Linked DNA regions of Homo sapiens. The protein of the gene in region 1 purifies or fractionates together with the protein of each later gene. This does not show direct contact. Each region holds a gene or a part of one and is shown in the gene's direction. Other genes may lie near its edges.

The links.
Region 2: the proteins of FOXB1 (region 1) and SMC2 purify together in Homo sapiens (affinity purification with mass spectrometry; one large-scale study listed by BioGRID and IntAct). This does not show direct contact.
Region 3: the proteins of FOXB1 (region 1) and NOVA1 purify together in Homo sapiens (affinity purification with mass spectrometry; one large-scale study listed by BioGRID and IntAct). This does not show direct contact.
Region 4: the proteins of FOXB1 (region 1) and RALY purify together in Homo sapiens (affinity purification with mass spectrometry; one large-scale study listed by BioGRID and IntAct). This does not show direct contact.
Region 5: the proteins of FOXB1 (region 1) and SMC4 purify together in Homo sapiens (affinity purification with mass spectrometry; one large-scale study listed by BioGRID and IntAct). This does not show direct contact.
Region 6: the proteins of FOXB1 (region 1) and UBE4A purify together in Homo sapiens (affinity purification with mass spectrometry; one large-scale study listed by BioGRID and IntAct). This does not show direct contact.
Region 7: the proteins of FOXB1 (region 1) and IQGAP2 purify together in Homo sapiens (affinity purification with mass spectrometry; one large-scale study listed by BioGRID and IntAct). This does not show direct contact.

Annotation. Positions count from the first base shown.
Region 1 is NC_000015.10:60,002,841-60,007,110, forward strand, and holds the start of FOXB1 (forkhead box protein B1), read left to right. Parts: upstream 1-1,470; 5' UTR 1,471-1,803; intron 1,804-2,066; 5' UTR 2,067-2,123; coding exon 2,124-3,101; 3' UTR 3,102-4,270. UniProt on the Homo sapiens protein: Transcription factor expressed by neural progenitor cells in specific regions of the embryonic neuroepithelium. Essential for the mammillary nuclei maintenance.
Region 2 is NC_000009.12:104,100,809-104,104,308, forward strand, and holds part of SMC2 (structural maintenance of chromosomes protein 2), read left to right. Parts: intron 1-1,151; coding exon 1,152-1,385; intron 1,386-1,615; coding exon 1,616-1,765; intron 1,766-3,500. UniProt on the Homo sapiens protein: Central component of the condensin complex, a complex required for conversion of interphase chromatin into mitotic-like condense chromosomes.
Region 3 is NC_000014.9:26,451,534-26,455,033, reverse strand, and holds part of NOVA1 (RNA-binding protein Nova-1), read left to right. Parts: intron 1-3,500. UniProt on the Homo sapiens protein: Functions to regulate alternative splicing in neurons by binding pre-mRNA in a sequence-specific manner to activate exon inclusion or exclusion. It binds specifically to the sequences 5'-YCAY-3' and regulates splicing in only a subset of regulated exons.
Region 4 is NC_000020.11:34,077,411-34,080,910, forward strand, and holds part of RALY (RNA-binding protein Raly), read left to right. Parts: intron 1-1,094; coding exon 1,095-1,139; 3' UTR 1,140-1,143; intron 1,144-2,499; 3' UTR 2,500-3,500. UniProt on the Homo sapiens protein: RNA-binding protein that acts as a transcriptional cofactor for cholesterol biosynthetic genes in the liver. Binds the lipid-responsive non-coding RNA LeXis and is required for LeXis-mediated effect on cholesterogenesis.
Region 5 is NC_000003.12:160,413,150-160,416,649, forward strand, and holds part of SMC4 (structural maintenance of chromosomes protein 4), read left to right. Parts: intron 1-323; coding exon 324-464; intron 465-1,217; coding exon 1,218-1,368; intron 1,369-3,101; coding exon 3,102-3,266; intron 3,267-3,500. UniProt on the Homo sapiens protein: Central component of the condensin complex, a complex required for conversion of interphase chromatin into mitotic-like condense chromosomes.
Region 6 is NC_000011.10:118,380,100-118,383,599, forward strand, and holds part of UBE4A (ubiquitin conjugation factor E4 A), read left to right. Parts: intron 1-1,120; exon of another isoform or gene 1,121-1,291; coding exon 1,292-1,424; exon of another isoform or gene 1,425-1,461; intron 1,462-2,489; coding exon 2,490-2,677; intron 2,678-3,500.
Region 7 is NC_000005.10:76,401,818-76,406,084, forward strand, and holds the start of IQGAP2 (ras GTPase-activating-like protein IQGAP2), read left to right. Parts: upstream 1-1,467; 5' UTR 1,468-1,728; coding exon 1,729-1,774; intron 1,775-2,506; exon of another isoform or gene 2,507-2,558; coding exon of another isoform or gene 2,559-2,679; exon of another isoform or gene 2,680-2,714; intron 2,715-4,267. UniProt on the Homo sapiens protein: Binds to activated CDC42 and RAC1 but does not seem to stimulate their GTPase activity. Associates with calmodulin.

The DNA of each region.
Region 1 (4,270 bases):
TGTGGGCTGTAAGTATTGAGTTTTTAACAACGCAGTAAAATGAATGTCTTTTAAAAACCTTAAAGGTCGGAGAATGTGCAGAAACCCGTGGGAACTCCTGGTGTGTACTTATAGAGTGCGTGCATGCAGGCGGGGTCGACTCACTATTTATTTCATAGCAATTTGATGATGATGATGATGACGGCAGCGACGACGATGAGGATAATGATAATAATAATAATGATTCATTTAACCCTTCCAAGGCGAATCCGAACCGAAGGGAGCCTGCTGCTCGCACCAGGCGGAGTGACCCAAGGCACATTCCCCGCTCCCCAAGAAGGAAAACTCTATGGTTCTTTCCCCAAGTTGTAGAAGATACTGCTGTCTTAGTGGGATCGCAGGCGGCTTTTGCTACACTCTAAATCCTAAATAAGTTCTCCATACCAAAAAAAGCGGCAGTTGGGGGATGGGGGGTGGGAGGTTGGGGGGGTGGGAGGGCTGGGAAGGGGAGTTCCGGGTGTAAAATGAAAACTTCCAGGATGTGCCTGAGTCCTAAAGTTTCAAACCACCTGGGAAAAGCGAGAGCCCCTGAGGCTTACCTGGTGATAAACTGTGTCAAACAAACTCAGGCCCTCCCCAGGTCCGCACAACATTTGCCCCAACAGCTCCTGAGCCTCCATCCTGTGTCCAACCAAATTCCCGGAGGACTTTTAAAGCAAATACCTGGACTCTTCGCCCAGATACACTATTTTAATTTTTAAAAATTTGGTCAATACAGTTACATTCAAAATGGGTTCTTACATGGGGATGTCCAATCACATTTTGAAAGTATTTGTAAACCCCATCACTTTTTCAAAGCTACACACTAACTATACAAAGCTGAAGCAGCTGCATAGGAAAGTCAAGTCAAATTTCGACCTAACTCTCCGGGGACTGGGGGGCAAGGGTGTGTTTTCATTATTATAACCCATGCAACCAACCCCGGGTAGTGCTAAGCGCAGGAAAAGGGTCGGCTTCAGGGGAAAGCCGTGCCTAAAGTTACCTAACGATACAAACCGGATACAACGCAGAGGAAACAGAATACCCCAGCCAAGCAATTTCCATGTCAAACATCATCCGCGCGGCTGCTCCATCTGTGAACGTGAGTGGTCGCCTGGCTCCCTCTTCCGCGGCGGCCGCTTCCTCATACCTTCACACGGCGCACACCGGCCGGCGCGTCCAGCTGCCTGCCCAGTGGCCGAGGCTCTTCCCCCTCGCCCAGTCTTGAGCTGGAAGTGATTCCTATTGGCCAAGGTGTCCATGTAAATAGGTGTGAAAGAAACCAGAGCTGGCCGGGCTCTCCCTTCTCGCTCAGTCCCCTCCCTCTGCAGCCCCCGCTCCCCCTCCTCTTCCTCCTCCTCCCAAGGCGATTGTCATATGATAGCTAAGAAGTGGCACATTAATGAAGCGCCGCTACAGGGGTCTTTTCTGCTCCTGTCACCGCTTAAAACTATCAGATGGTTCGAGGGAGGACATGGAGGCAGCCACCTAGCTCAGCGGAGACGCGGAGCCCACAGCAGCGCCCTCCGGAGCCCTAACACGTCGCTGCCACCATCCGCGCCGGGACTCCGCAGCCGAGCTCGGCCGCCCGCAGGACGCTCCAGGAGCGTCGCGGACCGGGCGGCACGGGACGCTGCGGGGCTGAGCTCAAGAGCCCAGGTTCGCGCCGAGTCCAACCGGACCCGGACGCTGCGCGCGGAGTGCGCGTCGAGTGCGCGCCGAGAGAGAAGCGGCGCGCAGCGGCGTCCTCCCGGATGCGGACGCGCAACTTGAAGCAACTTTAAGGTGAGCAGCTCTCTGTTCCGTCCCTGCCCCCTATTCTGGCCCCAGTACCGACTTACTTCCCGGCTATCCTCGCGCCGTTCGCCGGCTTCCCCTCCCGCGCCCACTAAGCCCGCAAAGTTGCTGGCGAAAGAGTCCGGGCGCTGGCTGATCGAGCGCCGCAGGCCCCACCCCCGACCCCCGAAGTCTGTTACTCGGTCTGGCTGACCCCGCCGGTGTCTCTGTGCATCCATGCTACCTTTCCCTATTACCCACCCCCTTCCCAGATCCGAGCAGTCCGCCGGCCCGCGCGGACCCAGAGCAAGAAGAGGGCGAGGAAGAAGATGCCTCGGCCCGGCCGCAACACGTACAGCGACCAGAAGCCGCCCTACTCGTACATCTCGCTGACCGCTATGGCCATCCAGAGCTCTCCCGAGAAGATGCTGCCGCTGAGCGAGATCTACAAGTTCATCATGGACCGCTTCCCCTACTACAGGGAGAACACGCAGCGCTGGCAGAACAGTCTGCGCCACAACCTCTCCTTCAACGACTGCTTCATCAAGATCCCGCGGCGGCCGGACCAGCCAGGCAAGGGCAGCTTCTGGGCGCTGCACCCAAGCTGCGGGGACATGTTCGAGAACGGCAGCTTCCTGCGGCGCCGCAAGCGCTTCAAGGTGCTTAAGTCCGACCACCTGGCGCCCAGCAAGCCAGCCGACGCGGCGCAGTACCTGCAGCAGCAGGCCAAGCTGCGGCTCAGCGCGCTGGCGGCCTCGGGCACGCACCTGCCACAGATGCCCGCCGCCGCCTACAACTTGGGCGGCGTGGCGCAGCCCTCGGGCTTCAAGCACCCCTTCGCCATCGAGAACATCATCGCGCGGGAATACAAGATGCCTGGGGGGCTGGCCTTCTCCGCCATGCAGCCGGTGCCCGCTGCCTACCCGCTCCCCAACCAGTTGACTACCATGGGCAGCTCGCTGGGCACCGGCTGGCCACACGTGTATGGCTCCGCCGGCATGATCGACTCGGCCACCCCCATCTCCATGGCGAGTGGCGACTACAGCGCCTACGGCGTGCCGTTGAAGCCGCTGTGCCACGCGGCGGGCCAAACGCTGCCCGCCATCCCCGTGCCCATTAAGCCCACGCCGGCCGCCGTGCCCGCGCTGCCTGCGCTGCCAGCGCCCATCCCCACCTTGCTCTCGAACTCGCCGCCCTCGCTCAGCCCCACGTCCTCGCAAACAGCCACCAGCCAAAGCAGCCCCGCCACCCCCAGCGAAACGCTCACCAGCCCGGCCTCCGCCTTGCACTCGGTGGCGGTGCACTGACCCGCAGGAGCCCACGCCCCCTCTCGTTCTCCTCCCCACCACCTCACTCGCCTTCCCTGGCTCCCAGTCCTGCCGGCCCCCACCTGGGACCGCCACCCTAACTTGTTCATTTCACCTTCGGCCAACCCGCCTTGCCCCAAGAGAACTTTGTTTTGGACCCAGGAGACCAAACACAAACTTGCAGATGGGCCGAGAGGCGCGTGGGAGTTGTCCTCGCCCCCACATCAAGGAAGGCCGGGGCCACCTGAGCCGAACCATCCCCTCCCTGAGGCCCCGAAACCCCCTCCTATTTGACCGGCGGGGGAAACCCTGTCACCCCCTCTTCGCCGAGAAAAGCGCGTCTTCCCTCCGCCCAGATCGGCGGAGCCCCGAACTCTGCGCAGTTTCAAGACTAGAGAAACTGCCTCAGATGTTTCCAGGAACAGATCCCCCCCACACCCCCTCCCCGCGAGGGCTGCAACAGCGCAGGGGAGGGCCGGATCTCTTTACGTCTTGGAAATCTGCAGCAAAAAGGAGCCACTAATCTTCCTACCCCACTCGCCTCCGCCCATCCGGCAGGGGCTGGGCCGACCACAGCTTCCCGGGGTTGCGGCCCTGCCTCCTAGGCTTCTGCGGAGATTTTGTTGTTGTTTGGGGTTTTGTTTCCTTCCAGAGGCTCCAGGCGCTGGGAGTTAGGAAAGAGGCTGCCAAGCTGAGAAAGCGACGCTCGTCCTCACACAGCAAAACAAAACTAAAAGTAACCTTGTATTGTTTACAAAGCGCCCAGTAATATGTAAACAGTGAACTTGAATCTGTCTTGCTAGGCGGACGAACGGGCAAAGCCCACATTATAAGTACCTGTTGTAATGTGAATGTTTACTCTTCATTTCTGGCCAGGTTTAGAAAGGGAGGGAAGTGGGGATGGGAAAGTTAATTGGGATGTTAACTTTCCGATGACTTAGAGACCTTTTTAGCTATTTATTTTATTGTTGGGAAAAAAAAAAAAAAAAAAGAAGGAAAGAAAATGAAATAAGCCCAAACCAAGAAAGCATCAAGGGCAACCCGGGAAGAACTTAGATAAGCTGACTGGTAACATGAAGGGATGTCACCGGATAGCTCTCCCACGGACAAGTCTTTCTGTTTGCTACCAGAACTTTTCCAAGAAGCTAAAGGGCTGCAAAGAGATGTAA
Region 2 (3,500 bases), on another chromosome or scaffold:
TAATTATTGCTATCAAGGTATTTTGTAAGCAAAAGGTATTGAAACAGAGGATTGGATTGTCTCTGTAATCTTTGCAGCTCCTGACTGTCAAAAGACATGGCACAATATGTCATCAAAAAATGCATTTATGAGCTACGTTTTCTTTTTCTTGAGACTAGTCTCACTGTCGCCCAGGCTGGAGTGCAGTGGTGTCATCACAGCTCACTGCAGCCTCCACCTCCCGGTCTCAAGGGATCCTCCCACCTTAGCCTTCTGAGTAGCTGGGACTACAGGTGCATGCCACCACACCCTGCTAGTTTATTTTTTTGTAGAGACAGGGTTTCTCATTGTTTCTCAGGCTGGTCTTGAACTCCTGGGCTCAAGTGATCCACCTGCCTCGGCCTCGCAAAGTGCTGGGATTACAGGAGTGAGCCACTGTGCCCAGCCAAACGACGTTTTTAAAGCTATCTCCTTTTAGGAATTTATTAAATGCTCATTGAAATTTGGTACTACTCAGAGCTGTCTTGTGAATCCATATAGTAGTATAAATTTTACTGGAAAAATTGTAATCTTGAAGATACCCTTTTTGTATGTATGATTTAGTAGAAAACACTAGATCAGGAATTTAAACTTAGGTCCTAGACTTCATTTTGCCACAATTGCTTTCTAAATCTAACAACATGGACAGATCATTTAATCATTCTGAATTTGTTTTTTATGTATAAATTAAGGATTTTAGTTATTACTTTGTCTGGTCCCAGTAGGTCCTTATGGGAGTCGTGTTTAGTAATGATGTAAGCGAGTGCTTGTAGTAGTGCTTCAAAGTATATTAGAGTAGGCATCTTGATACTACTACTACAGAATCCATGTAATAGTGTAACATGGTGGGTGTGTAAGCTTATGAACCTTATGTCCATATTTCTTTGTTAAGCTCAACTACCCAAGTGTGTGTTAGAAGAAATAGCCAAATAAGATTCACTAGAGATGGTAGAATGCTATCTAAAAGTCCTGACTTCTGATGTTACGTAAAGTTTCCTACAATTTAAAATGCTATAATTGTTTAATACAGGACAAAATCTATTATGTAATGAGAAATTTGTTTCATCTTGCATAATTGAATTTTTTTTTTAATACAATTTTGAGTTATTCTTTTTTTGTGATTTCTCTTTCAGGAAAGATCGTCCTACTTGGAGTACCAAAAAGTAATGAGAGAAATAGAACATTTGAGTCGTTTATATATTGCTTATCAGTTTTTGCTGGCTGAAGATACCAAAGTACGCTCAGCTGAGGAATTAAAAGAAATGCAAGATAAAGTTATAAAGCTTCAGGAAGAATTGTCTGAGAATGATAAAAAAATAAAAGCACTTAATCATGAAATAGAAGAATTGGAAAAAAGAAAAGATAAGGTCTGAACATATGTATAAGAATCGATAATATACTCTGTGAAAAACGTACTAAATTATATATAGTAACTATTTAGGATTCATTGGGCATTGTCTTCCGTATTGATTTGTTAATCTTATAGTAAGATAATGAAATAACTTATAAAAAAGTGTTTGATACAGAACTCATACAATAAAATGACAGCGTGAACAAATTTTACATAAGTGATTGAATTGACTGCATTTTGTTATAGGAAACTGGAGGTATACTTCGATCTTTAGAAGATGCTCTTGCAGAGGCTCAGCGAGTTAATACTAAATCTCAAAGCGCATTTGATCTCAAGAAGAAAAATCTGGCATGTGAGGAAAGCAAACGCAAAGAGCTGGAAAAAAATATGGTTGAGGTAAGTGAGCTTAATGTGCCACTAGTGCCACTTGTAGACAAGTATATAGTCTCATTAGTGTACATTTATCTATTCCATGAATATTTAGTGAGTGTCTTCTATAAGCTAAGTACAGTTGTTTGGGCTGTGGTTACAACTGGACCAAATGGTCAAAAATCCTTGCCTTGTGGACCTTCATTCCATTGGGGGAAATGATAATAAAGAAAATAAATAAAACATGTAACATGTTATAGAGTGATAACTGATGTGGAGAAAAAGCAGGGAAGGGGATTAGGAGTGTAGGGGAAAAAGAGTACAATTTGGGATTTTAAGTTGGATAGCCACTGAAGTAAGTGGAGAATAGGAAGAACGGGTTTGATAAGCTTAAGAAATACAGTATGAATATAATAGGCTTGAGGAGCCTGTTAGACATCTTGAGTAGTGATGTTGATTAGGTACTTAACTATATGAATATTGAATCCAGGCAAAAATACAGATTTGGAGGCATCATCAATGTATAGGTGTTATTTAAATCCATGAGACTAGATAAAATGATCAAGGCTGTAAGTTCATATAAGAAGGTTGGAGCCCTGGGATACTTTCAACGTTTGAATGTTAGGATAGTTCAACATTCAAAAGAGATTGAGTAGTGTGAGGAAAATTAGGCCAGTAAATTGTCCTGGAGTCCAGGTAAAAAAGATGTTTCAAGGAGAAGTGGCCATGAGTACCTGATTAGATTGTGTTCATACTCTCACAGAATGAAGGCAGAAAAAAGAAAAGTGAATATAGATAACTTTTTGAGAAGTTTTCTGAAAGAGGGATAAATAGGGAGGTAACTGGAGGGTAATACAGAAGAGAGTTTTTGGCTTGATTTGACATGGGATAAATAAATTCTATATTGACAGAAAAGATCCAGTAGAAAAGTCGTCATTTGTGATTCAGGAGAGAGAGATGGGAGAGTTGTTAAAATAGGGCCCCTTAGTAGCTGCAAGTAGGATAGGAACTAGTGTATAGAGGAGGTCGCCTTCGCGAGAACTAGGAATAGGTCATCCATGGTAACAGAAGAGTCAAGTATATAGTCTCACATGTAGGTAGATGAGTAGGTGTGTTTTTGGAGCTTATGGCATTTCTTTTGAGGGTGATTCTGTTGTCCCAGTGAAGGTATACATTTGCCTTTTCACTGAAAAAAAATTAACTTTGTGAAAATAATTTCTTTATACTGCCCTGTTAGATATTTTTGCAGAGAAATACATTGTTGAATTAAGAAACAGTGGAGGAAAATTTAGACAAAATTTTGAAGCGATATGAACGTGTTGTAGCAGTCTGTGTTGTGGCATCCAAGAACTGAAATCAATTCATCAATTACTTTTTTTTTTTAGGTGAGGTTTGTAAAGCTCTAAACATGTGGACCTGCCTTGTTTTGGGTTCATTTTTCTTTAGTCTTGTCATGTCCTTAAGCTTCACACACTGATTGCTCCTTTTTCATCCTTCTTTTCTGTATCCCCTTATTCTTCTAGATCTCTTAATGTTAGTATGCCCTAAGGCTAGCACTCTGATATCTTTTATAAACTCTCACGCCATAGGTGGTCTCATCCAGCTCTGTAACTCTAAATATCATCTATATGTTGATGCCCTCCAAATCTATAAGCAGGCTTAACTCCCTAAACTCTATGAAGCAGGTTTATTGTGTGCAGATTACCAACTTGTCTGAAGCCAGCAGACATAACACATTCATACACAACATTTTATGTGAAAT
Region 3 (3,500 bases), on another chromosome or scaffold:
TTTATCAAATCAGTCATTCACACAGGCAGATTTTTATTTATTTGAAGTCTGTAATCGAAAGGATACCATTTTTCAATTTGCTTTGTTCAACAATTCAATGTAGATTCCCCAAAATGGCACATGTATCTCCACTGGATGCTACTAAGTGGAGCCTCAGTATCCTAAATTGTAATACATTGGGAAAATAAAAGGCATTTTTCTGGTTAGATTATATAGTGTATATCATGGTAAAAAGTAAATTAATCTACATGTCTTTCCTTACCAGAACTATGATATCTTGACTATTAAGTTTAAGAGATAAAATGAAATGTCAGTATTTTGATAGGCAAATAATGCATGATATAAAAAGAATGTAAAAATATTTTCAAAGGTACTTTTTGGTCAGTTACAAATTATAGAAGCCCTCAAAATTATAGAAATTATCATAATTCAATTCAAATTTCTTTAAGCAAAAAAGGGAGTTGTATTTCCTCTGTGATGGCTTTAGACAGGGTTAGATTCAGATGCCAAAAAATGCAGTCTCATTTTTATCTGAGTTAACTTCATTTTCAGTCAGGTTCTTCCTCTTCTCATAATAGTGGTAAGATAGCCACTAGCAATGCCAGGCTGGTGTTCTACTAGATTTGAAACACAAATATCTCTTTATCGACAAGTTTCCCAACTTCTCATGCTCTTGTTTGGCCATCCTGCGTCATGTGCTCAAACCCAAACCAGTAAAGGTTATGGGTGTGAGTATAGCAATAGGTCAGACCTGGGTCATGTTTTTACTTCTAAAGCAAGCTTGTGCAACCTGTGCCCCAGGATGGCTTTGAATGTGGCCCAACACAAATTCGTAAACTTTCTTAAAACTTTTCTGTTTTTTTTTTCTTTGCATTTTTTAAAGTTCTTCAGCTATCATTAGTGTATTTTATGTGTAGCTTGAGACAATTCTTCCAGTGTGGCCCAGGGAAGCCAAAAAATTGGACACCCCTGTTCTAGAGATATTGAAAGATTGTCAGCCTTATCTGAGGCACATACACTAAGAATGAGAAAGGGTGTTTTCCAGAGGAAAACAGGGGCTCTGTTGCCAGAAGAAGAATGATTGGATACCAACTGAATGACTGAGTAAAATAACAGGTATCCACTGTTGATAGGAATTGCTTTGTAAGTGTAATGTCATATGTGTGTAGTAAATATGGCAGCCCTAAATAAAATAATTCATACTATTAATTGGGAGCTCTCAAATTATAATGGAAGTTGTTTTGCATTTACTTCAATATGTGGTTTTATTAAATAGTTTATGATTTTTCTGCCATGATAATGAAGAAATATGATGCCTATAGGTAGTCTCATTCCTTTATAGCCATAAAACCATCATGAGTTGGAGTTCTTATTTGTTGAAAGAGTAAATATATCTTAATGTCTGTTTTTAATTAGAAACATATCAATATTAAAATCAGTTTATGTGGTATTTTTAAAACTCATAGGATTGTTATAGAAGTTCTTTTGTGATTGCAAATAGAGAAATTGTAAATTTATTACTTTTTTCTGATAACAGTTGATGCTAGCATAATTAGTATAATTATATTGTTAATCTTATCTTTTTTTGGATAAATAACTTGTGAGTCTAGAATAAGGAAGGTTTAAGTAAAGATTCTTTTAATTTAAAAGTAGTAGTATTAAGCTGGGTACAGTGGCTCACACCTATAATCCCAGCTACTCAGGAGGCTGAACCAGGTGGATCGCTTCAGCCCAGGAGTTCGAGGCTGCAGTGAGCTATGATTGTGTCACTGTACTCCAGCCTGGGTGGCAAAGGGAGACCCCCCTCTCTAAAAATAAATAAATACATACATACATACATACATACATACATACATACATACATACATAATTGAAGCAGTTCATCACTGCTAAAATGGGTTTAGATTTGAAACAGGAACTGTCCAACACCGAAACAATAGTGACCAAATTTATGGAAATACTTGGTTGTGAAAAAAGAGTGTAAAGACCATTAGGGAAATATCTTCATCTCTAGAGGATTTTCTTACCTATTCTTTCTTTTTCCAGTTAAACTTTGTGTCTCCTTTATAACCTTATATACTTCTGTGCAGCACCCTTAAGACTCCTGCACTGATACACACTCATTTTCTACAACTATCTATAACCTCTTTAAAGGCAGGAACAATGTCATATATATCCTTTATCTCCAGCTTTCAACACAGGGCTTGGGCCATTCAGTAAGCGTTTATAAATGATTAGGTAGATGCTAGCAAATATAATCATAACTCTGAAGGGCAATCTGATTTGTAACTGTCAAGAACATATCTGACTTAGTTTTATACATGTTATACCAAATAATTGGTATGCCGTTGAAGATCAGTTCTTTTCTCCCGATTCTTTAGAAATAAGAATATGTGTATTTTTCTCAGCCAGAGCATTAGCAGACTTCACCAGTGAAAATGAATCCATGTATACAGTTAGAATTTGCTATTTGTCGTTTCAGTTGGAATTTAAATACTATCAGTATACAGACATTTGCTTTGGTAAATGCCTTTATCTAAGAAGTAAGAGAAAATAATCTATCTTACATAATTCTCTTTGCTTCTCCTCTGTTTTTTCCCACCAGTATTCAGTTGTCCACCATCTCAAAGCTTCCATGTTTTTCTCTCTCACTTTTCCTTAACTCTGGCCCGACACTTAAAATGTAAATATAAAACTACTGTCCTTGTAATGTTATTTAACTGAATTTCAGTTTTTTGTCTCAACTTCTTTTCAGAGAGTCTGTTTCTTCTCTCTGCCCATATTAGATTAATACTGTGTGCAAATAGGTATGGATATATTTTTTAATTATTCAGAGAAAAAAGACAGTGTAAGGCAAAGAGGATTCTCATGTTCTTTTGTCAAAAATAAAAATTGGGTGATAAATGCCTTGTGTAAGCTATTAAGTATTTACTTTTATTAAATTTTGAAACTTTTTATATTTATGTTTCCATTAATTTTCTAAATTTGGTAGTCTTACACAGAATAGCCTATTGTCTAAAGTTAGAAAATGCTATATATTATAATTACTAAGATGCAAACATTAAGTCTGGTCTTAAGTCATAACACATCTTTAGTTTTTTAATCTTGCCAACAAAACTTGGGGCCACATCAATATTTGATTAAACATTGATTGTGGTTGACAGATTTGTTATTTAAGATTCTTTGAAATGGTTAAACACTAAAATTCAGAAGATGAGTATTAACTACATAAAAGCACCTTTAATATAAAGATAGACATTGTCATATAATTCTTCAATTTTCAAAAATATGGATATTTTTGGAAGATGTTTACTGTCATTAAAAGTTAACACTATTTTAAATTATATATTATTTCAAAGTTTTTGAGTATTGGCCGGGCGTGGTTGTAATCCCAGCATTTTGGGTGGCCGAGGCAGGCGGATCACCTGAGGTCAGGAGTTTGAGACCAGCCTGGACAACATATGGTGAAACCCCATCTCTACTAAAAGAATACAAAAATT
Region 4 (3,500 bases), on another chromosome or scaffold:
GCACTTGCCTATCTCAGACACCATCAGAAGTCCCACTGAGGCCTAGGGCAGACCTCCCCCAAATGCGGGCACATTCTGGCCTCCGGTTTCCACATGAGTTGGAGAATGGGAGATTCGGACATAAGGGAGCACACACGGCCTGCAGAGCTTCAGAGCAGGGCTGGGGTGGCTTGTGGAGGCCACAGCCAGGAGGTGGGTTTTTCTAAAAGCCATTGCTGCTTAAGCATGAAGCAAAAGCTGTCTCATAAGGGGGTGAGCTCCCCGCCTGTTACTAGAACTATTCAGGCTGAGGCCGGCAGGCCATTTGACAAGGAGCTTATGTTGAGTGGGAGGGTGGACCAAACTCTGAGTCTGTGGGATATGGGTTGTACACTTGCTGCTCATTTACTTAATGAGCGCTCATTGAGCACCAAGACCCAGATCATACTCTCTAACTTCACATAACCTTAACAAGAGCCCTGTACTATGCAGAGTATTCTGTTCCCACATTTTACCCTGTGAGGAAATCGAGGCTCAGAAAGGCTGAGTGGCATGCTCAGGGCATCAGCTCGTAGGGACTGAGCCAGGGTTGGAGTCCAGACTGACTTGCTGGATCTGCAGCTTTCTCCTTTTCAGCACTGCTGGGTTCTATCGTGAGAACAGATGGGCTCATGGCCATGACGGTTAGGAGGTCTGCCTTATGCTAGCTCATCTCTCCTTTGAGCGTAGCCTGATCCTTCATCTTATTTTCTCAGGCATAGCAGTGTCCATAAAGGCCCTAACAAAGACTTGGATGCCCCCAGAGATGGGGAGCTCACCAGTCTATAAGGCTTTCAGCCTTCTCCAGTGCAGGCTCTCTGCACAGAAATGGGGCTCCTGCCACTCCCAGAACACCCTTCACTGGCCTGTGTGGGGTCCTCAGACCACCCTTCCAAGTTCCCAAGCCAGCTTTGTTGGCTGGTCCCATAGTCATTCCCCTTGGCTGTTCCTGCGTCTTCTGACTGTGTCCTCTAGATGCCCTCTGGACCATGAAGTTTTTCTGGACAAATGGCTCAGGGCAGGACTCAGAGCTGGCAATGAGTGATGTGTGGTCTCTCTTACCTCCTCCCTATCAGGAACACAGCCAGGACACAGACGCGGATGATGGGGCCTTGCAGTAAGCAGGTACAGGGGTCCTGTCCTGATGGGCAGAGGGTGGGGAATCAGTGAAGTGGAGGTTGTGCCTTTTCCCTGGATTGGGCAGGAAGTGTCACGAAGCATACCTGGCCAAGTAGCACTGACTATACCCAAGAATGAAGTCCCCTCCATATCTAGCCATCCCGTCACACCCCTTCATGCTTGGGGCTTGCCATGCTGAGGAAGCAGGTGCCGTAGATGGGCCAGGCGGGCCCACCTAGCAAGGGTTCCTTCCCTCAGCACACTCAGCCATGTTGCCTGTCTCTGCCCTTGAGGAGCTCCTAGTCTGGTAGAGGAAGACATAAGCCATTACCACCTAGTGTGAGCAGGATAACAATAGAGCGAGGCCAGGTCATGGAAGAGATGATGTGTAGCTGAGCCTGCTAGTGATTGAGGGAGCAATGTTCCACACCAGGGGAATGGCCTTAGCCATACAGAGCTGTGACAGTCCTTGGTATGTGGTGAGGCCAAGAGCCTCCTGTGGCTGCAGTGCCCCCCTAGTTGGTAGAGGACTCTGCTTATTGTCAGAGGGTGATGATTGTGAAGGGCCGTATGTGTCAGGCTTAGGGGCTGGGATTTGATTCTTTCATGGGGAGGAAATGCCCTGTGTGACAGGAGCTGCACCTGCTTTCTCTGAGTTCATCTTCAATCCCACAAGCTGATGATTGTACCAATATAATAGATGTGGAAACAGACACTAAAGGGTGCAGGGAGATAAGGTAGTAGTTGGTGGAGCCTGGATTTCAGCCCAGTGGTGTGTGGCTTCAAAGCCCACTCTCTGGCCACTGTTTACCATCTACTCTGCCCTACCTTAAAGGAAAGCCAGGCCACACCTGGCTGTGCCTACTACTCTCTGACCCATTCCCTTGGGGTGGCTTGGGTGGAGGAAGGTCTCAAACACTAGTGTTTCCAGGGAGGTGTCTGGATAGATGACACATTTATGCTGTAGTAAGATATCCCACCAGCAAAGGCTTCCAGAAGAGCTTTAGAAAATTGTACATATGCAGTCTTCTTTTGGAACTTCTTGGTTTGTTTTGCCTGGGATGCAAACAAACCTCCATATCCAGCCATCCTGCTACACCCCTTTGTGCCTGGTGCTTTCCAAAGCTTGTTAAAATAGTTCACAGGTGAGTTATATGGGCTCAGGTGAGGAAATGGAGGTTCAGAGAGCGGGTGAGACTTGCCCAAGGTTACATGGCCAGGAAATTATGAGGCCACAGCCAGAGTGCAAGAATCTCTCTGTCTCCAGACATCATTCCACCCTTTCTTCCCTACCCCTTTTATCAGCAACAGGGTCTCTTCCTCTCAGCCTTAGTCTCTTCTTTCTCTCTCTCTCTTTCTCAGCCTGACAGGAGCAATGGCCACCAGCAGGTGAAGGGCATCGCTGCCCCAGGCCTCAAGCCGGGCACCCAACCCTGGATGCCACCCCCCAGCGGGTACCAGAGGAAAGCTGGCAGCAGGCGCCTCCTCCCCCAACGCATCCCAGCCAGTGCCATGTCCTCTGCAGGTGGAGTTACTGGCCTACTCCTTCCCCATGAGCCCTCCCTGTCTGCACTGCCCAGGCCAGAGGGTAGAGCACAGGGGTTTCCCCATACTACCTCCCCTCCCCAGGACACTCCCAGGCTTGGGTTTTTTCTATAGGTTTGGCGGGGGGCCACAGGGAGGGGACCCTGACAATAAAGAGATTGGATCCCAACCTGTTCTGAGATGGGATGGTTTGTGTTTTCTCATGAAGATATCCCGGCCCCTCTGCCAACCAAAAAGCTGGTCTAGGGTGCCTAATACTGATCCATCTGGACCTTAGTGTCCTCAGTGGTGATTAAAATGGCCAGTGGGGCCACTGGGGAGGGTTGGATATGCTGGCCCATGAGCATCTTGCTGGCTGAAGTGTCAAGCAGTTGTGACCCACTTGGTTTACCCCATAGTAGGTCAAGACCTTATCTCTTTCCCCAGCTTCTAAGTCTGGTCTTTCCCAGCTCTTAAAAGGATTCTAGAGTCTGCCAGTCTCTACCTTCTCTCTTCTGGCTTAGGACACTATAATTTTTTCATTTGGACGTTGTCCTCCCACCAGCCTCCCAGTCTTCTGCCTCTGCCCTGTACCATCTCCCAGCAGCCACGCAGTCTTTCTGAAACGTATCCCTTCCCTGCCTAAAATCCCTTTACTGACTCTTCATCATCAGGACAAAACCCTACCTCCTGAATGTAGGGTGTAAGATCCTGCTTACTCCAGCCTCTCCTGTTTCTTGTCACCACCCCTTTCCTGCCCCTGACACAAACCCTACATCTCAGTCTCACAAAACACACAAGTTCTTCACACTCCGGGCAGGTTTGGTAGCAAGGAATAG
Region 5 (3,500 bases), on another chromosome or scaffold:
TTTTTTCTTTTTTTGGTAGAGATGGGGTTTCGCCATGTTGCCCAAGCTGGTCTCAAACTTCTGAGTTCAGGCAGTCTGCCTGCCTCAGCCTCCTAAAGTGCTGGGATTACAGGCGTCGGCCACCACATTGGTACAATGAAATCGATTTTTGTTCCTAAATTCTAGCCTTGACCCAGGGGGATTTTCCCCTCATAGCCTAGGCAGTCATATATTGACTAGTTAATAATATTTTAGAAACAGTTAGTTTTACTAAAATTGTTATACAGTTTTGGAAATGGCATTTTAGGAGCTTCAATTTCTTTTTTTTTTTTTCCTCCCTATAGTTATGAGTTGCAGAAACGAATTGCTGAAATGGAAACTCAAAAGGAAAAAATTCATGAAGATACCAAAGAAATTAATGAGAAGAGCAATATACTATCAAATGAAATGAAAGCTAAGAATAAAGATGTAAAAGATACAGAAAAGTAATAATATTTTGGGAAGTACTAAAAGTATTTAGATAATTGTATTACATGTGTATTTATATATAAAGTTACTTCTAGCACATTGTGAGTGTAAGACATTTGCCAGCATATCAAGTGGTGGCCCCCTTAGTGAAAAAAAAAAACTTGCCTTGCATCCAGTTCCTTGTTACAGATGAAATTCCCTACTCTGAAGTCTTAGAACCGTGGGGATGCTACCCCCTAGTGGCGTAGCACAGTAACAAACAATAAGCATTTGGCTTCACAGTTTAATCTTTTAGTAGTCCACAAATCTGATAGAGGGATAGGATTTGGGTTTTTCTAGATAGATTTTTAAGGGTTTTATCATGTCCCTACTTGATGCCATTTTTCAATGACACTAGTATCTCTAATTATTTTTAAATAAAAAAATTTGTATAGTAAGTTTATTGTATAGTAACTTGTAAGTATATTCGTAAAAGGTAAAACCAAAATTTTACTCCTATGGTAAAATTTTTATATACCTAGACATTGTAGTCACTGGAAAATGTGTTATTTTCCCTCCAACTTAGAAAGGCAAAATAGCTGTCATAATCAAAAATACAGGTGCTTCTTCAACTATGGGGAGAGGGATCATCTTGGAATAAGGAGAGTTTTAGGATCCTGCCTTATTAAGAGCCTGGACATATTTATAGAGGAAGTGTTCCAGGTAGGAAATGTGGTTTTAAAATATGTGCACATTCAAAATAATGACTTACAATATACTTGCTTTGCTAGGAAACTGAATAAAATTACAAAATTTATTGAGGAGAATAAAGAAAAATTTACACAGCTAGATTTGGAAGATGTTCAAGTTAGAGAAAAGTTAAAACATGCCACGAGTAAAGCCAAAAAACTGGAGAAACAACTTCAAAAAGATAAAGAAAAGGTAGGTGTTAGAAAAAAATTCTTAAAATTTCACGTCTGAATATCATACCTAGTTTTCATGGATGTGTTTGCCCCTTATTGCCTAAGAGAATGAATTAGTATTCTAAATGTTGTTTTAAGGTTTGTCTCTGAACATGATTTTACCCCCTCAAGGGAAACCTTGCTTCTACTGACTTTATTTTGCAGGAGGTTTTTTGTTTGGTTTTGGAATTTTGCAGAGATGGGGTCTCAGTCTGTTGTCCAGGCTAGCGTGCAGTGGTATGATTATAGTCTTGAACTCCTGGGCTTAAGAAACCTACCTCAGCCTCCCAAAGTAACGTGGACTACAGGTGTGAGCCATTGCTCCTAGCTTGACTTTGAGTTTTAAAGTTTATATTACAATAATATGTTATTGGGAAAACATTTACCAAATCAGGAGTTCCATTTTGGTGTTAATTTTAATTTTCTTTTTCCTAAAGTAGTAGTTTTTAAAGATATTTAAGTTAGGTATTACAGACTTAAAAATATTGCCTGTCTTCTACAAAAACTAAGCTAACAGGATCAGAGCAGGATTTCCCAAGAATTACCAATGTTGGCCAGGCACAATGGCTTACACCTGTATTCCCAGTGCTTTGGGCGGCCAAAGTTGGAGAATTGCTTGATGCCAGGAGTTTAAGACCAGCCTGGGCAACATAGTAAGATCCCATCTCTACAGAAAATCCAAAATTAGCCAGGCTCAGTGGAACTTGCCTAAAAGTCCTAGCTAGTCAGGAGAGTGAGGCGGCAGGATGCCTTGAGTTCAAGATTCCAGTGAATAGTGATCAAGCCACTGCATCCAGCCTGGGTGACAAAGTGAGACTCTGTGTCTTAAAGAGAGATAGGAAAGCTCATAATTTGGAATCTCTTAAGCTGTGTTCATGTTCATAGCTCTGTCATATTTAAACAGATATGATACCTTAACCCCAGCCCCGCAAAAAAAAAGCTTTGTTCCATATGGTTACACAATAATTATAGATTAGGCTCTACTTTACGCTATAAGCATTTTCTAAATGTATTTGTTCACAAAATACTTTCTGCTTAGCACAGCTGATAAATACGTTGAGTCAGTGTTTAAGGAAGTGGCATTTTGGGAAATGTTGAACTTCACAGGTACTAGATAATCAGAGTAAACAAAATAACAAGGCTTTGGGGGTAACCCCAAAGACTTGACAGACTTAGCTAAGTGTAACTGTTACAGAGTGATTAGCCTTTAGGCATAGACTGCATGGATAAGTGATTATTATCAGAAGATGTTAATGGAGTAAAATATTAGCCCTACATGATGACTCTGGAAGAGTAAAGTTGTGAAAGATTTTAGGGTTGGGGAGATGGTAAAGATAATTTGTGGTAAGTTATGATATACCAGGAAGGATAGTTTAGAAAATTCCGTGTAGTCAGAGCATATTTATAGCTAAAGAAGAATAATTACAACCTGAAATCAGGAGAGAAGGATGACAGACCTGAGGCCCTGCCAGAGACAGTTTTCCTTCATAAGAGGTCAGGTGTTTGTAGAAGTAGTTTTACTATTAGATTGAGAGAATATAGAAATTACAGTGAATAGTCGGGAAAATACTTGTTAAAGCTAGCTAATTTAACTCTGATTATAAAGAAAAGAAGAACTAGAGGACCCTGAGAAATGCCTTTAAATATGTCAAATATTGATAGTATTGGGTAACATAAAGATGTATGCTCCTATAACTTGTTTTATAATCTCAGGTTGAAGAATTTAAAAGTATACCTGCCAAGAGTAACAATATCATTAATGAAACAACAACCAGAAACAATGCCCTCGAGAAGGAAAAAGAGAAAGAAGAAAAAAAATTAAAGGAAGTTATGGATAGCCTTAAACAGGAAACACAAGGGCTTCAGAAAGAAAAAGAAGTAAGTTTTTTTTTTTTATCAGTGTTTATTTTGGTGGCTTTTTTTTTTTTAACTTAAAGATTATTTTTTCAAAAATACTGAAACCTGAACTGGTAAGTTTGGACTTTTAATGTCCAACATTCCTAAAACTAGTCAACCTAGACTTAGATGACTATTCTTTTAATTCCTGCTGACATGTTTTTTAAAAAGTTTACTAAATGAGAGTTTGTAGTAGTAGCAGAAGGTGTGATGTCA
Region 6 (3,500 bases), on another chromosome or scaffold:
AACTCAGAAGGGAAAGAGTGTGTGTGTGTGTGTGCGTGTGTGTGTGTGTGTGTGTGTGTGTGTGTGTGTGTGTGTGTCAGTGAGTCATTGAGGGGTGGGCAGGTGTTGTCAATCTAATCAGGTTATGTGTTCTTAACCATTGTATTGGCCATATCATGCTGAGTAACAGATTACCCCAAAACATAGCAGCTTAAAACTACAGACTGGGTATGATGGTGCACGCCTGTAATCCCAGCACTTTGGGAGGCCGAAACAGGATGATTACTTGAGCCCAGGAGTTCAAGATTGGCCTGGGCAACATAGAGAGACCCTATCTCTACAAAAAATAAAAAATTAGCCAGGCATGGTGGTGCACACTTGTAGTTCCAGCTACTCAGGAGGCTGAAGTGAGAGAATCGCTTGAGCCCAGGAAGTTGAGGCCACAGTGAGCCATAATTGCACTACTGTACTCCAGCCTGGGTGACAGCAGGACCCTGTCTCAGAAAATAAATTAATTAATTAATAAAATAACAACAACAACTGCAAACAGCTCACTCACCTGCATTGTTCTGACTCAGAGTTCCTCAGGAAGTTATATAGCCAAGCTGTCAATCAGGGCCTTAGGAATCTGAGGACTCTGCTAGGGCTGGAGGATCCACTTACAAGCCCAGTCATGTGGTTGTTGACAGGCCTCAGTTGCTTGTGCTATTGGCCAGCAGCTTCTTTTCTAGGCCATGTATGTGTCTTCTAAATACTACTCATGATATGGCAGCTGGCTTCCCCCAGAGCAAGTGACCAAAATGGAGACTGTAAGCTTTTATACCCTAATCTTGGAAATGACATACTATCACATCTGCTGTATGCCTCAGAGTTTATCTTCTACTCTGAAAGAGTGAATGTGGGAGGGGACTGCATAAGGTCATGAATACCAAAAGGCAATGATCATTGGAGGACCATCCTGGAGTCTGGCTACCACAGTCACCTAACATATTAATCTTTATTAGAGAGTCCTCACACATCTGAAGGGTTTAAACCACAGTTAACCTTGAGAGTAAAAATGTATATATTAGTATACTGGTGTGTTAACATTTTGTGTCATTACTGTTCATATATTTACTTGAATAAAAATTTAAATTGACTTACATTTAAAGGAGATTTTACATTTATTGACTTAACGACCATCTCTAGTACCAACAAAACATTTAGGGTTTTTTTTAACCTTCATTAAGTAGGGTGAAAGGAATTTAAATGTTGTTTATTAGTACAGATATACAGATGTTTGGCTAATTCCAGTGAATATTTTCTTTTTCAGAATTTTTTGCAGATAACCTGGGTGATTTTCTCATTTTTCTCCGCCGCTTTGCCGATGACATTTTGGAGACATCAGCAGATTCCCTGGAGCATGTCCTTCACTTTATCACCATTTTCACTGGAAGCATAGAAAGGTGAAGTGCTGAAAGCTTGGTTCTGTCACTGTTTAGGCTGTAAAACATTCAGAAGACTTCTAAACCAAGAAATAAACAAGCCTGAATCATAAGGGGTTGCCTTCAGAAGTTATGGTAACATTAAGGAATCACCTGACCATCCATATGGGTAGCCAGAAATCCCACTGTTGAGAGGTATAATAAACAAAGGACTTTGTCCACAGAGAATTTAATCCTGCATATAAGTATCTTATGGGAAGTCCACTGCCAGTCCCTGGTTAAAGTAGTTAACCTAATGCCAGAAACTTAACAGTGGCAGCCAGGTGCTAATGATCTTCTAATAATTATATGATAATAAAGCTTATTCTTGCTATTCTGAGTTGGATGAGCAGTAAACTTAAGTCAATGTTATTTCTCATTTCAAGTTTTCTCACTCATAGCTTCTAGTCCTCTTTTCCAAAGGAAGATACTGTGACTTGTAGAATTGCTTCCCTGATTTTTTTGATGCATAGGCTAAAGGAAGTGGAAACTCTGTGTACAAAAGTGAAGATTTGCTGCACAATGAAGAGAATGACCCACAATTCCCTGAGCCGTATCAGTGATAAGTAGAGAGAAGCCATTTCTTCACTGAGCTGAGCATACCTAATGAGAAGTCATAAGTCAACAAGTATTATGCATACACTGTATGCGTCATGGGTAATGTAGCATAATTATATTCTAGTCTTTACCCTCAGAAAGCTTGAAAAGGCAAGTTTATTCCACATGAAACTGTCAGAGAATAGGAAGCAGTAAATAATGCATTATTACAGAGAAGTAAACAATGGCTAAGCATTCAATAGAAACTTAAGTGCTCACCGTCATATTTGGTAAGCTGTCAACTCAAGAGTTAAATGATGTACCCTGCATCACCACCCCACCCCCCGCCCAGCCGCACCAAGAAACTGACAAACTTAAAACTGCAGAAGTGGATCCTTTTTTTTCCTGTAATATGGTTTAGGGTGGATTTTGATTCTTATGTGGAGAGAACAGAGTCATAAATTTGGAGTTAAGCTTATCTGCTCATCTTGCTTTTTGCCCATTTTGCAGAATGAAGAATCCCCACCTGAGGGCCAAACTAGCAGAGGTGTTGGAAGCAGTGATGCCCCACCTGGATCAGACCCCAAATCCCTTGGTATCCAGTGTGTTCCACCGGAAACGTGTGTTCTGCAACTTTCAGTATGCACCCCAACTTGCAGAGGCTCTAATCAAGGTTTTTGTGGACATCGAATTTACAGGTAAAGCAGTCATGAAGCTGAGCCCAGAACTGGGAAGCTGATACCAGTGGAGTTTCATAGTTTGATCCGTATTTGGATATCAAAGAAATGTCAAGCCATTACTTATTGAATACCTACTATATGCCAGGCTTGATGATAAGTGCTTTTTTTTTTTTTTTAACATTATCCCATTGTCACCATTGGAAAAGTTTCACTCTATTATCCCTGTTTTATTTATTTTTTATTTTTTAATTATTCTTGTTTTACATATGAAGACATGACTGCCCAAAAGATCAGTTTGTCCATGTCATAACAAACTACCAAGTGGTAGAATCAGGTCTGTGTCACCTAAAGAAATCTACATATTCAACACCCTTATTATGTTGCATCATCAAATCAGACTCAAATTAGACTATTTGGGTCTTTATATTTCTCTGCCTTAAAATTACAGAATAGTGCATAAAGAGGCAGTGTATTGGTTGAGAGATTCTTTTATCTTAACCAGACTATCTAACTCTCCAACAGTCTAATGGTTCGATTAAAAATACCAGCAGGCGGACAGGCACAGTGGCTCATGCTTGTAATCCCAGCGTTTTGGGAGGCCAAAGTAGGCAGATCACTTGAGCTCCTGAGTTTGAGACCAGCCTGGCCAACATGGTGAAACCCATTCTCTACAAAAATACAAAAATTACCCAGGCATGGTGGCAGGTGCCTGTAATCCCAGCTACTTAGGAGGCAGAGGCACGAGAATTGCTTGAATTCGGGAGGCAGAGGTGGCAGTGAGCTGAGATCGCACCACTCCAGCCTGGATGACAGAGCAAGAAATCCCTCTCAAAAAAAAAAA
Region 7 (4,267 bases), on another chromosome or scaffold:
AGAGCCACCCTAAGCACGCTCTGCAGTGTCAGCATCACCTGGCAGTATGCTAGAAATTAGAAATGCAAATTCATGAGCACCAGCCCAGACCCATTGAGTCGGAAATTCTGAGGGTGGGGCCCAAGAATGTGAGTTTCAACAAGTTTGAGAAGGACTGCGTCTCCTATATGAAATGGAAAACAGCTGCTCATCCTCTGTATCCTTGCATAATAAAAAATGATTAGTGTCACTATGCCACCATTTCCTCAGCGAAATAATTTCCATCCCCCCACCGCCTCCGAGGGTCTTGCACTCTCACCCAGGCTGGAGTGCACTGGTGCAATCACAACCCACAGCAGCCTTGTCCTCTCGGGCTCAAGCAATCCTCCCACCTCAGCTTCCTGAGTAGCTTGGGACTGCAGGCGCAACCACCACGCCCGGCTAATACGGCTAATATTATTTTTTCATTTTTTGGAGAGACGGGGTCTCGCTATGTTGCCCAGGCTGGTCTGGAACTCTTGGGCTCAAGGGATCCTTGTGCCTCGGCTTCACAAAGTGCTGGGATTACAGGCGTGAGCCGCCGCGCCCGGCTCTAAATAATTTCTTATCGCCCTCCCTCAGTTTGTTTTTCCTGTTATCGGGTCACCCACACATTCCACAATTGTCAAATAGGTGAGGGCACAGGTACGGAAGCGTCCCGCATTCCCTCCAGATTTTATCACGCTGAGACACAAAGAGAAAAATAGCTCCTGGCGACCGCATGAAAACCCCGATTTCAAAACAGCCACATGCAGTTTAATTTCCTTAAAAGCTTAGCCGGAAAAGGTTTCTGTGGCTTGCGACCCCAGCTGGGCTTGAGAGAAGGCTCTGCACACTGGGGCGGGGGCGGGCACAAGGTGATCGGAGGGAGGGGGATGACTCGCAGTTGTGTTTTGAGTGGTTGCCTTGGGTTATCTTGTTCCTCCAGCACACACACACTCAGTTTCTTGTCATAAGGGGAACCCTGTTATTTTGTAGACAAAAAGTGACAGAAGCAACTTTCGAAGCAAAAAAAAAAAAAAAACAAAAAAAAACAAAACCAAAAAGACGAAGAAGAAGAACAAAAGTCAACGTGAAATCTCCCCAGAGGAAAAGGAACCGCGCTGTTTGTCCCTCAGTAACTGAGCAACACCCCGGACACGAAGGGCTCCCTGTGACTTCTGCGGTTTTTCTTGCACTTCTCCGCGTTGGTTCACTTCCACCCTCGAAACTCTCCAGAAGCGAGAAATAAGGCGGGGTGGCCGCCACCCCCAGGCCACCAGCTGTGCGGGGGCCCCAGCTGCAGGGGGTCCCGGCCCAGCGTCCCTCTCGGCCCCTTCCCTCTCCCCCGGGGGAGAAGGGGCGGGTCCACGCGGCCTGGGCGCTGCGCCCGACACGCGGTAGGGGTCGCTGCGTCTCGGCGCGCGCTCCCACCGCGGTGAATAACGGGGCCTGGCTGGAGGAGAAAGGAAACCTGCTGCGGGAGGCGGCGGCGACCGGCCAGGGAGCGAGGGAGGAGAGTTCACTTTTACTTCAGTGTCAGCGCGCGGCGGCCGTGGCTGGCTCTGGCGAGAGAGCACCGAGGGAGTGGGTCGCAGATCTTCGGGCGGCTAGGGGAAATCGGCGAGAGGCGGGATCCGAGCGCGCCGGCGGGGCGCAGAGCCCGCGAGCCTGGCCAGCGAGGGTAGCCGCGGGGGGCGCGCCCCGGGCGGGCCCCCGGAGACGCGCAGGATGCCACACGAAGAGCTGCCGTCGCTGCAGAGACCCCGCTATGGCTGTAAGTGCGCCGGGCGCGCGGGGTTCCTGCTGGCCTTGGGGAGCTCCCTCCCCGAGGACGGCGTTGGAGAAGCCGAGGGAGCCGGTTGCGCGGCGCAGAGGAAATTGGAAGGCAGCAACTGCGCGGCTGGCAAAGTTGGGAGCTGGAGTTGCAAAGGGCAGTGAATCGCGTCCCCCCGCTCCTCCCGCCCCCCAATTCCTAATATCCAGCTGGCAACCCAGACCCTCCACTCCGCATACCCAAACGGGGTGCGCGGGCAGTGCGGGGATTGCGCTCTGGGACAGACCAGGTTGGGATTTTAGGGGTATCAGGTGAGGAGTCCGCGGAGCTCCGGGTCGCCGCCGGCTTGGGCCAGGGGGTGGCGTAAGGCACCGGATTCTTCCAACCCAGAAGGGGAGGAAAGTTTGTTTGCTGTGGCTACAGGTGGGCACCGCAAGTAGGGCGCCGGCGCACTCTGCTAGTGCAAAGCCGGCTTGACTGGAAGGGCGGGAGTCTCCTCCTGTCCCGCGCCCTCGAACTTCACCTGACCCGCTAGAGCCATTGGCCTCACAGGTGTAAGTCCCTCCCCTCTGAAACCCCCCAACCCCTTTCCCCCCCGCTCCCCTCGCGCGGGAGGATTGCTGTGTGGAGAGGACGCGGCACTAGGCTCCGGGGAATCCGGCGGGAGCCCGCGTGACTTGAACGAGATGGTGTCGATTACCCAGCCAGGGGCTGCCCTCGGAAATAGGTTGCTTTGGCCGATCGTGAGTGGATGGAGCCAGATTAACACCAACCACGTGGCTTCATGTGCAGAGTTCAGAGTCCTAAACATGTGCCAGGAAGCATTTCCTTTAAAACAAACAGAAAGTTGGCCTGCTGTCTCTCCAAGGTGGCCCTGTCAGTGAACCCAAGGCCGAAGACCACAGGTTAATCTTTGCCCAGGCTGGCCTTGGTGGCAGAGGTACCAGGTTTGGGTTAAGGTGGTGATACCTTCAGCAGGGTGTTTTGTTTGTGTGTGTGTGTGGTTTTGGATGGTGCGTAAGGCCACTGACTTGCTTAACTGAAAAAGGGCTCCTCAACTTGTGTAGGTTCTTTCCCCTCCTCCCCGCTGGCGTGTCAAAGATGGGAGGTTATCTTTCCTGTGTTACCCTTGCAGTGAGGGGGAGGCCTGAGGACTACAGCCTCTGTACTCTAATGCATTCAGCAGTTGACTGAGACCCAGCTTTTTGCCTTTTGGTAAACCACACAGACAGCAGAGCCTCTTGGGTTCAAGAGGGAACGCTGTGCTCATTCAGTGTTTGCAGTGCCAACCTCAGGTGGGACCCAGCTTTTTGCCTTTTGGTAAACCACAGATACAGCAGAGCCCGTTGGGTTCAAGGAGGAATGCTGTGCTCATTCAGTGTTTGCAGTGCCAACCTCAGGTTGGTGGAAGTACTTTAATGTGACCAGCTCTCAGAATATATGGTGGCTTCACTGTGTCAAATGATAAGATAACCACAAACTTCTGCAAACTAGGTGAATCTACATGAACAAATGATTTCTTGCTATCACATGATTGATGTCGGCCCTCATGAGCAATAAATAGTGCAAAATTTCCGTGAATGTGGTACATGAATGCAGCATTTCTGTCAGTCCCTGCATGTGCATCTGTGATGCTGCTTGATTTTCACGGAATAAATCTGTGTTTTAAGTGCACTCCAGAAGAAGCTATCAAGGGAGTCCAGATCTGGCAAGCCTGAAGCCCACTCCACAGGGCCGCTTTCTTTGGAAATCTTCATCCAGCTTTCTTCACCAATGTGGTGTAAGGGGGTGGTGTGCCATCTTGTTGGAATCACTCCCGGTTACTTTCCCTCCACTCATCAAGTGCTGGCATTCAAGTTGGTCACTTAACACTGTCAAAATGGAAAATATTTGCCTATGTTTCCAGACTTTCTTGTCACCCTGAAATATTAAGGCTTTAATATGACAGTTATCTCATTAAAATGAACACTTTTATAATTTTGGTTTATGAATGGTGTATTTTCAGTGTATTCAGAACATGATATCTAGCAGAATAGATTTTGGCGTTAATAGGCATTACCTAACATTACCTATTCATGCAGAAGAGGGCTATTTGGTGTGTTAGTGTAATTTCTGGTTGTTGTTGGCTTTCTGAGCCTCCTATCAACATGAGACTGAAAATCGTGCTGTGAGCTCTTCATGGGAAGGCTAGGGAAGGATAACACAGGATTGTCCTTGCTCTGTTGTGTTCTAGGGCTGTGCTTTTTCTTGTTTATTGGTTTGGTAAATACAGTTTCAGTAAAACCTCAAATTATAAGAAACAGGTGTTACCCCTAGCATTTAAAAATAAAGTAGCAATACATTGTAATTTCAGTTCTAGTGCTGAACGTTCTGAGTATAAGATGTTTGAGACTGGGCTTTAAACACAACTTTTTGGTAGTTTGAATTAAGTTGTCTATTGCTTATTTTGGGTCTGAGCTTCTGTTCTGCTCTCTCTCCTACCCACTTGACTCC